Homo sapiens: one gene and its partners. The protein of the gene in region 1 purifies or fractionates together with the protein of each later gene. This does not show direct contact. Each region holds a gene or a part of one and is shown in the gene's direction. Other genes may lie near its edges. The genes, in order: CA2, ACOT1 and EPB41.

Region 1 (3,651 bases):
GGTCTTTAGTCTGTTACTCCAGTGCATCTTAATTTAGTTTAAGTGATTAGGGAGAAAAAATTAAAAAATATTAAATGTTCAGCTTTTAATTTGTATAAGTAATGTGATTCATTTCAATATTACTGGATTTCTTATTTTTCTCAAAAAGTAATTTATATAATTTCCTCAAATAATATGTATAGGAAGAAAGATTATTCTATAACATTATACTTAGTGCTTGTTTTGTGTTATATACAGAGTATGTATAATTGATGACAATCATGAAAATTAAAATTGGCTGGAGCTCTTGGTGTTGAGATTTGAATTTAAATTAAATTGGGGGGGGTCTTGAAAAAAACATTAGAGTAGAAAACTGTATTTATGTCTCCATCCCTCACAGAACCCATTTCTGGGGTACAATGAATCATTGACTCTTTAAAGCACCACTGCCATGGCTGGATTTTACAGAGAAAAAATAGGCAGTTAGCAATTTCTGCTATTTTTTAAAATTATTTTTACATTAGAAAATAGATTTCATTTTAAACTGCAACAGTTTAGAAAATGGCATGTAGTCATTTAAATAAATAAGTAGATCCAGAATATAGCATAAAGTCCCTAACTTAAACCAAGATATTATGTTTTATGTTTCTCAAATAAAAAGTTTGAGTTTATGGCAATTTATTATAACAATGTTTTTGAAGGACTTCATTGACTAAACTCCATGCTAAGAGTTTGCCAGAAATGCTGCCTTCTGTAGCAAGTAAACTTTAAGGATTTAATAACATTTTCTAGTTACAGTGGGTTTCTAATCTTCATAGGAACAAGTTTTATTTTAACAGGGGCTAAAACAGGTATCTGGTGATAACAGATTAGCACTGAATGTGTTTAATCATTGAGCCCAGAGCACTTTATCTTTTTTTTTTTTTAGTGTTAGCTGTTAGCAAGTATTGTTTACTAAAGGTTTGCACACACTCTTGCCTAATTCTAAATGTTTTTAGAAACAAATTAAGATGAAACTTTAAGATTTGTTAGAGAAAGAATAAGAAACAGCAATAAACTTTATTCTCCTTAAAATGTAAGATCCTGCTATGATTCTTCACTGGGGGGAAAGAAGATACATTTAGAAAATTGGTTATCTCAGATTCTTAGTATGGTTTTAGTTAGTTAGTTTTACCACTTGGTAGAGTTAATGATTTGACAAATGACATTTGCTTCTTATTATCAGCCAGTTGGTTGCTAGCTTTAAAGAGTTATTATAAAGGATTTTTTTCAGTATTAATTTATTTCATAAACATATATTTAATTTTTATATATTATTATGAAAAAAGGGAATTATTTCATTCTTTTTTAAAAAAGTCTAGAATTAGAGGCTAATATTTCCTTATAGAATTGTCAGGAAACAAACTGTTGTAATAAGTTGTTTTTGTGTTCCAAGAGATGTGACTTTGTCAGAATACATCCAAATTCATATTTCTTAGCAGATCTTTAACATAACACCATTTATAATTCTTTCTGTTTTCATTCTTCCTTTTTTCTCCTGGCCTATTGTAAAGCAGATCTGGCAGCCAGAGGTTGTATCAGGAACCACAGAAAGACCCCACTGCTTAAATATCTTCAAAGCAGTCTTTCACTTTGAATAGATGAATGGATATTGCTACCATGTAAGGATATTTAGGTGAAGCTCATGAACAAATCTTGTTGTACAGAAGTTATCCCTTTGTTCTGCAATGCCAAAGTAAATTTGGGCTCATTATTTTATGGAATTATAAAGTAAAGCTAATAAAATACACTTATAGCAACAAATGTTTAATTCCCAGTACTAGAAAAATAAAATTTAAATTGTAGAACTAAACTACTTTTAAAAGCTTTTGAATATATTGGTTAAATCCCATTAATACATACAAAGTTAGGCACAGAGTTTCTTGGTGGATGGAAGAAAGACTGATTTCACACTATTTTAATCCTCTGTCAAGACGCAACTTATTAATTATATACAGATAGTTTGTAGCCGATGGATGTGATTTTTGTTACTGATTTTGCTTAATGCAGTTACATTAATGCCAGAATAGTAGAATCGTGGAATAGTTATCAAGTTAGAATTTTAAGTTCTTGGAGATAATAGAGCACATTACACTGCATATAGAAGATGATCCATAAATTATTAGTGAAATAGTAAATGATTTAGTGTGTCCACAGATGAGTAAATTAAGGTCAAAGAGGTTTAATAAAAATTTTCGGCCGGGCACGGTGGCTCATGCCTGTAATCCCGGCACTTTAGGAGGCCGAGGTGGATGGATTACTCAAGCTCAGGAGTTCCAGACCAGCCTGGGAAACAAGGCAAGACTCTGCCTCTACTAAAAATACAAAAATTAACTGGACATGGTGGTGCACACCTGTAATCCCAGCTACTCGGGAGGCTGAGGCACGAGAATCGCTTGAACTCTGCTTGAGGCGGAAGTTGCAGTGAGCCGAGATCGCACCACCGCACTCCAGCCTGGGCAACAGAGCAAAGCTCTGTTTCAAAATAATAATAATAATAATAAATAAATAAATAAATAAATAAATAATAAAAAAAATTAAGGGAACAAAGCTAGCCAGCAGCAGTGAGAGTCTAAATTCTAAAGAATTTGGGAAGCCTATATAAGGATAATTGGATTTTGCAATGTTAAGATCAATGGAATACTGATTTCACAAATTCGGGTGTCTAAGAACTGGTATCAGAGGTTAGCAAAGCAGGCTGTATGGCAGCAATCGGGCCTTGGTGGAAGAGAGGGTCTCACGTTTGCAAGTGTGTGTAGCAGACCAATTTATTGGCCAGTAGCTGCATGGGCACTTCCTAAATGTTTCACAGATTATTAGTTTCACTTAGAATTTTCTCTCTCTGGACCTGAATCTATGACTCTAAAACAAACCCAGAAAAAGGAATCAGTATGCTCAGAAAGAAAGATGTGAAAAACATCCATTCTCCAGACAACGCATGTGAGGAATAAAAACAGGTAAAGTGATTTTGTTCAGCACCGTAGACTAAACTTGACTCTGGATTGAATTTTCAGAGTAAAATGTGATTAAAGGCAAACATTTAGTACTGTAAAACAGAATTAAGATTGTAATATTTAGGCATGTGTTTCATGTGTGTGTATGTATGTGTGTATACCTATGTATATATGTGTATGCAGATACATACATATATGTTACATATATATATATGTTTTAATTTTAGTGCTCAAGGGAGGACCCCTGGATGGCACTTACAGATTGATTCAGTTTCACTTTCACTGGGGTTCACTTGATGGACAAGGTTCAGAGCATACTGTGGATAAAAAGAAATATGCTGCAGAAGTAAGATATACTTTTTTTTTTCTTTCCAGGGAAAAATGTTTATAAGTTGATATTTAGCATTAATTTCAAAAGCTTAATTTGTAAATTCAACTCACGCCCAGTGAACCACTTCTTTTACAAAGGACCTTCACATTTGCTTTTTATAACCTTTAATTGTGACATCATACTTAACGCTGCAAAACTTTCTCTACTGTCTCCAACTCCACCATTTGCAAAAAGTAAACGGACTCAAACTGGAGGATCCTGTTTTAACAGAAATTTAGAAATAAAATGTGTGCCTTCTGTCAAAACTGTACATTTATTTGTCTTAGAGTTATTGATGAAAACACTTGC
Region 2 (3,751 bases), on another chromosome or scaffold:
GAGTAGCTGGGACTACAGGCGCCTGCCACCACGCCCGGCGAATTTTTTGTATTTTTGGTTTTTTTTTAGTAGAGACGGAGTTTCACTGTGTTAGCCAGGATGGTGTCGATCTGCTGACCTCGTGATCCACCCGCCTCGGCCTCCCAAAGTGCTGGGATTACAGGCGCGAGCCACCGCGCCTGGCCCCTTTTTCTTGTTAGAGACAGGGTCTTATCCAGGTTGGTCTGAAACTCCTGGCCTTAAGAAACCCTGCCACCTCAGCCTCCAAGTAAACTGGGATTATAGGCGTGAGCCACCTCACCCAACTTCCACTTCCCAGCTGTATGATCTTCAGAAAATCAGTTAAATTCTCTGGGCCTTAATTTACTACTACGGTTCTTGTAAGTATTAACAATTAGCTACTATTATTTACCTTCTTTAGTTCCTGAGACTTCTATGCACAGAATATACTTGATGTGTGCCACAGAACCTATACAAAGGTAATTACAACTAACAGGGAGTTGTATGATAATGACATGGGACATGGGACATGAGAGCATTTGGAAAGAGATAAAAAGGCTTACCTTGAGGACAGCCTTATTAGGAGCAGAGGCAAACACAGGTTTTGTGAGTTTGAAGCTTACGCATTTATAGGTTTCTCTAATTACCAAGATAGGAAATTATGAAATCAGGTACAAGGGCTTGGGAGGGGCCTAAAGCTTAAGTTTGATGAAAAAAAAAAACCACCTCTGGTTGGAACCAATAGCCTATGAAAAAGTAGAAAAAAGCCCAATGCATGGGGAGCGCCGGTAGTCCCTTGAGGTGTTTGAGAGGCTGAGGCAGGAAGATGGCTTTAGCCCAGGAGTTTGAGGCTTGTAAGTGCGCAGTGATGGTAAACCGCCGCTGTACTCCAGACTGGCAACGTAGTGAGACCCTGTCTCTTTAAAAAAAAAAAAAAAAAAAAAAAAAGATGAGAGGTAACACTTGCCTGACTGGGACAAAAATGAGAAACCAGTATAAGAAAATAATAACTATTGGCCGGGCGCGGTGGCTCATCGCCTGTAAATCCCAGCACTTTGGGAGGCCGAGGCGGGCGGATCACAAAGTCAGGAGTTCGAGAAATTAATAACTATTACCTCATTTGGCTATTTTTACACCTGTAAGGAATAAAGCTCAGAGGTCACACAGCTAGTAAGAAGCCAGCACCCTTCGATGTGGGAGTGATGTGGAGGATAGGCATATACAGAGAACACGAAAGCAAAACACCATGGTGCAGATTTTGAAAGAAAAGCCCTAAGATTAGTAATGAGTGTGAATTATTCAACAAAGTGATCAAAACCAACTCCAGTCCTGCATTCCTCTTCGCCATCAGGAGTTTGGAGCCTGGAGACTGCTAGCTGCCTGGTTGTTGTTGTTTTTTTTTTTTTCTGAGACGGACTTTCGCTCTGTCGCCCAGGCTGTAGTGCAGTGGCATGATCTTGGCCAACTGCAAGCTCCACCCCCCGGGATCACGCCATTCTCCTGCCTCAGCCTCCCGAGTAGCCGGGACGAACCAGTCCTGGCCCAGCCCATTCCGCGAGCCAGCAAGCTTCTGAAAAGCAAACCTAGGAAGTTGCTTTCCAACATAAAGTGGAGGTTTCAACACAGGAGACTTTAAGCAAGTTCCAGTGTGTCTATATTTGGTCTGGCTGATCGGCTGGACTCTGGCCTTCCCCGCTCACATTAGCAGACAGCTCTGCCCTAGTGGGCGTTTAGCCTGCGACGGCAGCCCGAGAGGAAGAGTTGGGCAGAGTTGCAGGGGTCTCCACAGCTGAGGCAGTTTGGCCGGATTATTTGGGTTCCTGCTCGGATGGCGGCGACGCTGATCCTGGAGCCCGCGGGCCGCTGCTGCTGGGACGAACCGGTGCGAATCGCCGTGCGCGGCCTAGCCCCGGAGCAGCCGGTCACGCTGCGCGCGTCCCTGCGCGACGAGAAGGGCGCGCTTTTCCAGGCCCACGCGCGCTACCGCGCCGACACCCTTGGCGAGCTGGACCTGGAGCGCGCGCCCGCGCTGGGCGGCAGCTTCGCGGGGCTTGAGCCCATGGGGCTGCTCTGGGCCTTGGAGCCCGAGAAACCCTTGGTGCGGCTGGTGAAGCGCGACGTGCGAACGCCCTTGGCCGTGGAGCTGGAGGTGCTGGATGGCCACGACCCCGACCCCGGGCGGCTGCTGTGCCGGGTGCGGCACGAGCGCTACTTCCTCCCGCCCGGGGTGCGGCGCGAGCCGGTGCGCGCGGGCCGGGTGCGAGGCACGCTCTTCCTGCCGCCAGGTGACTCACCTCCGCTAATTGTTCCCCTCTGCCCATCCCTGTTCCTGCGCTTTCCACTGTGTGTGTGTGTGTGTCCCCTTCGCCCCGCCCCGCTCTTTTCGCTTGTGTGTGTGTCCCTCCTCCCGCCCCACCACCACCACCCCGGGCTATGTTGCCCAGGTAGGTCTTGAACTCCTGGACCCAAGCTATCCTCCCGCCTCTGCCTCCCCAAGAGCTAGGATTGCAGGGTGAGCCACTGCGCCCGGCCCTTTGAGGGGAGTTACACTTATTTTTTTATTTTTATTTTTTTTCGTCCCTGCGCTTTTCATACGGAGAAAGGATGTAGCTTCCAACATTCCGGAGGTTAGTGTAAGGAGACAGGAATGGAATGGAAAGTTGGTTGGGGAATTGCCCCTGCCGCTCCAAAACTGAGAGGTCCCTCAAACCTAGTGCTCAGTTAAAAGACATTGTAAGGGCTGGGCGCGCTGGCTCACGCCTGTAATCCCAGCACTTTGAGAAGCCGAGGCGGGCGGATCACGACGTCAGGAGATCAAGGCCATCCTGGCTAACACGGTGAAAACTCGTCTCTACTAAAAATACAAAAAATTAGCCGGGCGTGGTAGCGGGCGCCTGTCGTCCCAGCTACTCGGGACGCTGAGGCAGAAGAATGGCATGAACCCAGGAGGCGGAGTTTGCAGTGAGCCAAGATCGTGCCACGCACTCCAGCCTGGGCAATAGAGTGAGACTCCGTCTCAAAAAAAAAAAAAAAAAAAGGCATTGTAAGGAAAGAGAAAAGACACATAATATTAAAAACAAACAAAACAAAACAAAAAAAACAGGCCGGACGCGGTGGCTAACACCTGTAATCCTAGCACTTTGGGAGGCCGAGGCAGGCGGATCAAGAGTTCGAGACCAGCCTGGCCAACATGGTGAAACCCCGTCTCTACTAAAAATACAAAAATTAGCCAGGTGAGGTGGTGCACACCTGTAGTCCCACCTACTCGGGAGTCTGAGGCAGGAGAATCGCTGGAACCCTGGAGGCAGAGGTTGCAGTGAGCCGAGATCACGCCATTGTACTCCAGCCTGGGGGACAAGAGTGAAACTCCATCTAAAACAAAAACAAAAACAAAAAACAAACAACAACAACAAAAAATTTTCAAGTAGTTTCAATGTTCTTATTTATGTATGGACCAGGAAGTCACTTTTTTTTTTAATAAAAAGAATTCCAACTGGTTTTCTCACTGTATTTCCATGGCAGCTAGGAGGTGCCAGGTGGCTGGGCCTGTGACAGTGCAGAGGTTTTGGTGCCTGCCCGCCCACCATTGCTCCAGCTGCAGCTGCTGCCCCCTGCAGGGCCTGTTCGTTCCTGCTGCCTAGCTCCCTGCTGGCTGGCTATGATCTCCGTCCTGTTACCATTCCAGGAGAGCAGCCACCTCCCTGTGCATGGCAGGACCAGGTACTGATTGTGGCCTCTCCTCTTGGCCTCG
Region 3 (3,637 bases), on another chromosome or scaffold:
GGACACAGGGTCCCAGAAACAAGGCTGCAAAGCCTAAATATCTTGCAGCCTGTTGGCCCAGCTCAGTGGGTCCCGCTGCTTTAGAAGCCTGCACCCACCCACTCAGTCTGGTGTGATCTGAGCCCCTGCTACGTGCTCAGTCTGCACTAGACAGCAAAAGCAATGCGGTGAAAGGTGTTTGAGGTTTGGAGTGAGACAGACTTGGGCTGAATCCTGACTCTGCGACCTAATTGGTTATATGTCCTTGAGCAACTTATATTACCAACCTGAGCTCTAGTTTTACCATCTGTAAAATAAGGATGATCACAGGTTTCTTCCAGGGTCATAAGGGCCAAACACACTTGGTAGCTCAGAGAGATGCTCCAGTGTCCCTCAGGTTTTCTAGTTACTGAGAGTGCATGGAAGGGGTAAGCTATGGTACACTCTGGCTGGCGAGGGAGGCACTTTAAGAACTGTTAAGGAGAAGCAGTGTGGAGCAGCAGGTTTCATAGAGAGGTGGGCGGAGGCAGAGTCACAAAGAGAAGACTTGAGCTGGGCCTGAGGTGTGAGCAGATGGGTTGGGCAAACAGGATCAGGGAGGATGGTCAGGGGCCCACAGAGGTGGTAGTTCTAAGAATGCCATTCATAGAGCCAGGAGACCAGAAGAGGGTTTTCCTTCTTCCCTTGCCCCTTCTAGAGATGGTTCTTAAGAGCCAGGTGAGTAGTCAGCTGGTCATTTCTAGCTGAGTCCTTTTCCATAGGGGAGCCTGCAAATTCAGAGACTGCAGCCCAAAGAGGATGGTGTTTTTGCTCTTTTGACTTTCCCTCTGCTCTCTTTAGCTTTTCTAAAGTAATCAAAGCTCCTCCAGATCCTCAAACAGGGACCCCCTCAGAAACTAAACAACAGTGTGGTAAAGAGGAAAGTCTGATCGACTTGAGTTAAAATCCCTATTGCACGGCTGGGTGCGTTGGCTCACGCCTATAATCCCAGTACTTTGGGAGGCCGAGCAAGGTGGATCACCTGAGGTCAGGAGTTCGAGACCAGCCTGGCCAAGGTGGCAAAACACTGTCTCTACTAAAAATACAAAAATTAGCCAGACGTGGTCACGGACACCTGTAACCCCAGCTACTTGGGAGGCTGAGGCACAAGAATCGCTTGAACCCAGGAGGCAGAGGTTTCAGTGAGCCAAGATCACACCACTGCACTCCAGCCTGGGCAGTGAGACTCCGTCTAAAAAAAAAAAAAAAAAAAAAAAAGTCCCTGTTTCACTACCTACTAGCTATGAAACAGTAAGCTCTTTACTGAAATTCAGTTTCCTCACCTATAAAATGCAAAAAATTACATTACCTTAATGCACTAAGTTGTCATGTTTAAGTAAAAAGTAATGATAATAGTTATTATCTTAATAACAATATAGTTATTAATAAATTATAACTTAATAGAGTTTAAGTAATAAGTAATGTACTTAGGCTAGTGCATGGCATATAACAGTCCCTTGTCCTCTTCCTTCCTTTCTTCTACTTTGGCCAAGGACATCTCTTCCTTTTTCTTGCACACTTCTTTACTTTCCTCTCCCGTCCTGAACTTGCCACTTACCCATGCTGAACACAGATGTTGTTTTGTCCTTTAGATTCACATCTTGAGTGAATCCTCTCAGACCCTCCAGGTATAATGATAGATAATAGATAGGTATAATAGATAATATAGGCCAGGTGCAGTGGCTCACACCTGTCATCCCAGCACTTTGGGAGGCCAAGCCAGGTGGATCATTTGAGGTCAGGAGTTCGAGACCAGTCTGGCCAACATGGTGAAACCCCATCTCTACAAAAAATACAAAAATTAGCTGGGCGTAGTGGTACACACCCGTAATCCCAGCTACTCAGGAGGCTGAAGCAGGAGAACTGCTTGAACCTGGGAGGCGGAGGTTGCAGTGAGCCGAGATTGCACCATTGCACTCCAGCCTGGGTGACGGAGCGAGACTCCATCTCAACAACAACAAAAAATAAAAAAAAAATAAAGGATCATATAACAGATACAGCTATGACCCCCGAAGTCCCTCTCCAGTTCCTAGAAGACAGCGCTAACCTTCCCTGTCCCTGTGTTATCAGTCCAGAAGCCTCCCTATGCAGGATAGGGTGGGTAAGGTAATTATCAGCTTGGCTTAGCCTAAAGCTGCCCTGGTACTGCAGACAGGAGTATTGGATCTGTCAGAACATCAGAGAAATGATGACCACTGCCTTCCTTCGCCATCAGGCTATTTTCTGCCTCATTGCCCTTGTTTCTGTCTTTTGTAGGTCCTTGTACAAGCCATCAAGGAGGCAAAGGAGCAGCACCCAGACATGTCAGTGACCAAGGTGGTCGTCCACCAGGAGACCGAGATTGCTGATGAGTGAGCTCAGGTACTGGGCGTTCCTGCTGGGGCTGAGGGTGCCCACAGTCCCAGCCTGAGAGGGCTCTGGATGGGACCCTCGGACACACTGGGAGCCCATCCCCACAAAGAGGTGTTCACCCTGGGACTTGATAAAGGCAGACGAGAGGCTGATGTGGGAGATATAGGAAATTAAGTATTTGGCTCCAACTAAAGCAGCCTGTAGCAGTGCCAGCATTATTGGGTAAGAGGAGGGACCCAAACTTGGATATAAGCCCCCAGCTACCCTCTGAGTCTTCATGCATCCTGCTGGAGATCCACTTCACCTTCCCCCTCTCTTCTCTCTACTGCTCTGCTTGCTGCTGTCACAGGTCTCTCTTTTTTTTTTTTTTTTTTTGAGACGGAGTCTCATTCTGTCACCCAGGCTTGAGTGCAGTGGCATGATCTTAGCTCACTGCAACCTCCGCCTCCCGGGTTCAAGGAATTCTGCCTTAGCCTCCCAAGAAGGTGGGACTACAGGCATGTGCCACCATGCCCAGCTAATTTTTGTATTTTTAGTAGAGACGGGGTTTCACCATGTTGGCCAGGTTAGTCTCGAACTCCTGACCTCAAATGATCCACCTGGCTTGGCCTCCCAAAGTGCTGGGCTGGGATTACAGGCATGAGCCACCGCGCCTGGCCAGTCACAGGTATCTTTGAGCCAGAACCTGGGAAAGCCAGAGGAGAAAAAACCAAGAAGAGCAGGATCAGGCTGTCTGGAGATGGGTGGGCATGCAGAGCAGGGAGGTAATGGCTGAAGCTCTGAGACCAGAGTAGAGAGCTGGGAGCAGGGAAGCTGCTTTTTGGGAACCAGGGATCCAGATAAATTCATGCCTAAAAGTAATTTTAAAAAGACTTGAAGAAGCCACCAATCTCACTAGGTGGGACCAGGCCCTGTAAACCTGCTCACATCCCCATTGTCACTGATGGCCACAGGAACTTGGCAATGGGACTAGGAAGCTTTTTCCTTTGCAGGATTTTAAATTTTGCTTCTTTGTTTTCTCTAGGAACTAACCTACCCCAACTCTGCCCTTCTCCCATCCAAGAGAAACCAGCAAAATGATAAAGAAGCTAACCTGCCATAGTCAGACTTCAGACTTTCAAGATTATTCTAAATCACCAGAAAATTAATTTCAGTTTCTATTGGGAGTTTATACCAAGAGATTCTTCTAGATCTCATTGATCCTTTTGAAGAGCTTTTTCTATATTAGGATATCAGAATTGTTCAACTTTTCACTCTATAGACTGTT

The links.
Region 2: the proteins of CA2 (region 1) and ACOT1 fractionate together in Homo sapiens (co-fractionation; one large-scale study listed by BioGRID). This does not show direct contact.
Region 3: the proteins of CA2 (region 1) and EPB41 purify together in Homo sapiens (affinity purification with mass spectrometry, with the first as the bait; one large-scale study listed by BioGRID). This does not show direct contact.

What each region holds. Positions count from the first base shown.
Region 1 is NC_000008.11:85,470,494-85,474,144, forward strand, and holds part of CA2 (carbonic anhydrase 2), read left to right. Parts: intron 1-3,199; coding exon 3,200-3,318; intron 3,319-3,651. UniProt on the Homo sapiens protein: Catalyzes the reversible hydration of carbon dioxide. Can also hydrate cyanamide to urea. Stimulates the chloride-bicarbonate exchange activity of SLC26A6. Essential for bone resorption and osteoclast differentiation.
Region 2 is NC_000014.9:73,535,594-73,539,344, forward strand, and holds the start of ACOT1 (acyl-coenzyme A thioesterase 1), read left to right. Parts: upstream 1-1,549; 5' UTR 1,550-1,828; coding exon 1,829-2,285; intron 2,286-3,751. UniProt on the Homo sapiens protein: Catalyzes the hydrolysis of acyl-CoAs into free fatty acids and coenzyme A (CoASH), regulating their respective intracellular levels. More active towards saturated and unsaturated long chain fatty acyl-CoAs (C12-C20).
Region 3 is NC_000001.11:29,113,425-29,117,061, forward strand, and holds part of EPB41 (protein 4.1), read left to right. Parts: intron 1-2,274; coding exon 2,275-2,373; 3' UTR 2,374-2,379; intron 2,380-3,394; 3' UTR 3,395-3,637. UniProt on the Homo sapiens protein: Protein 4.1 is a major structural element of the erythrocyte membrane skeleton. It plays a key role in regulating membrane physical properties of mechanical stability and deformability by stabilizing spectrin-actin interaction. Recruits DLG1 to membranes.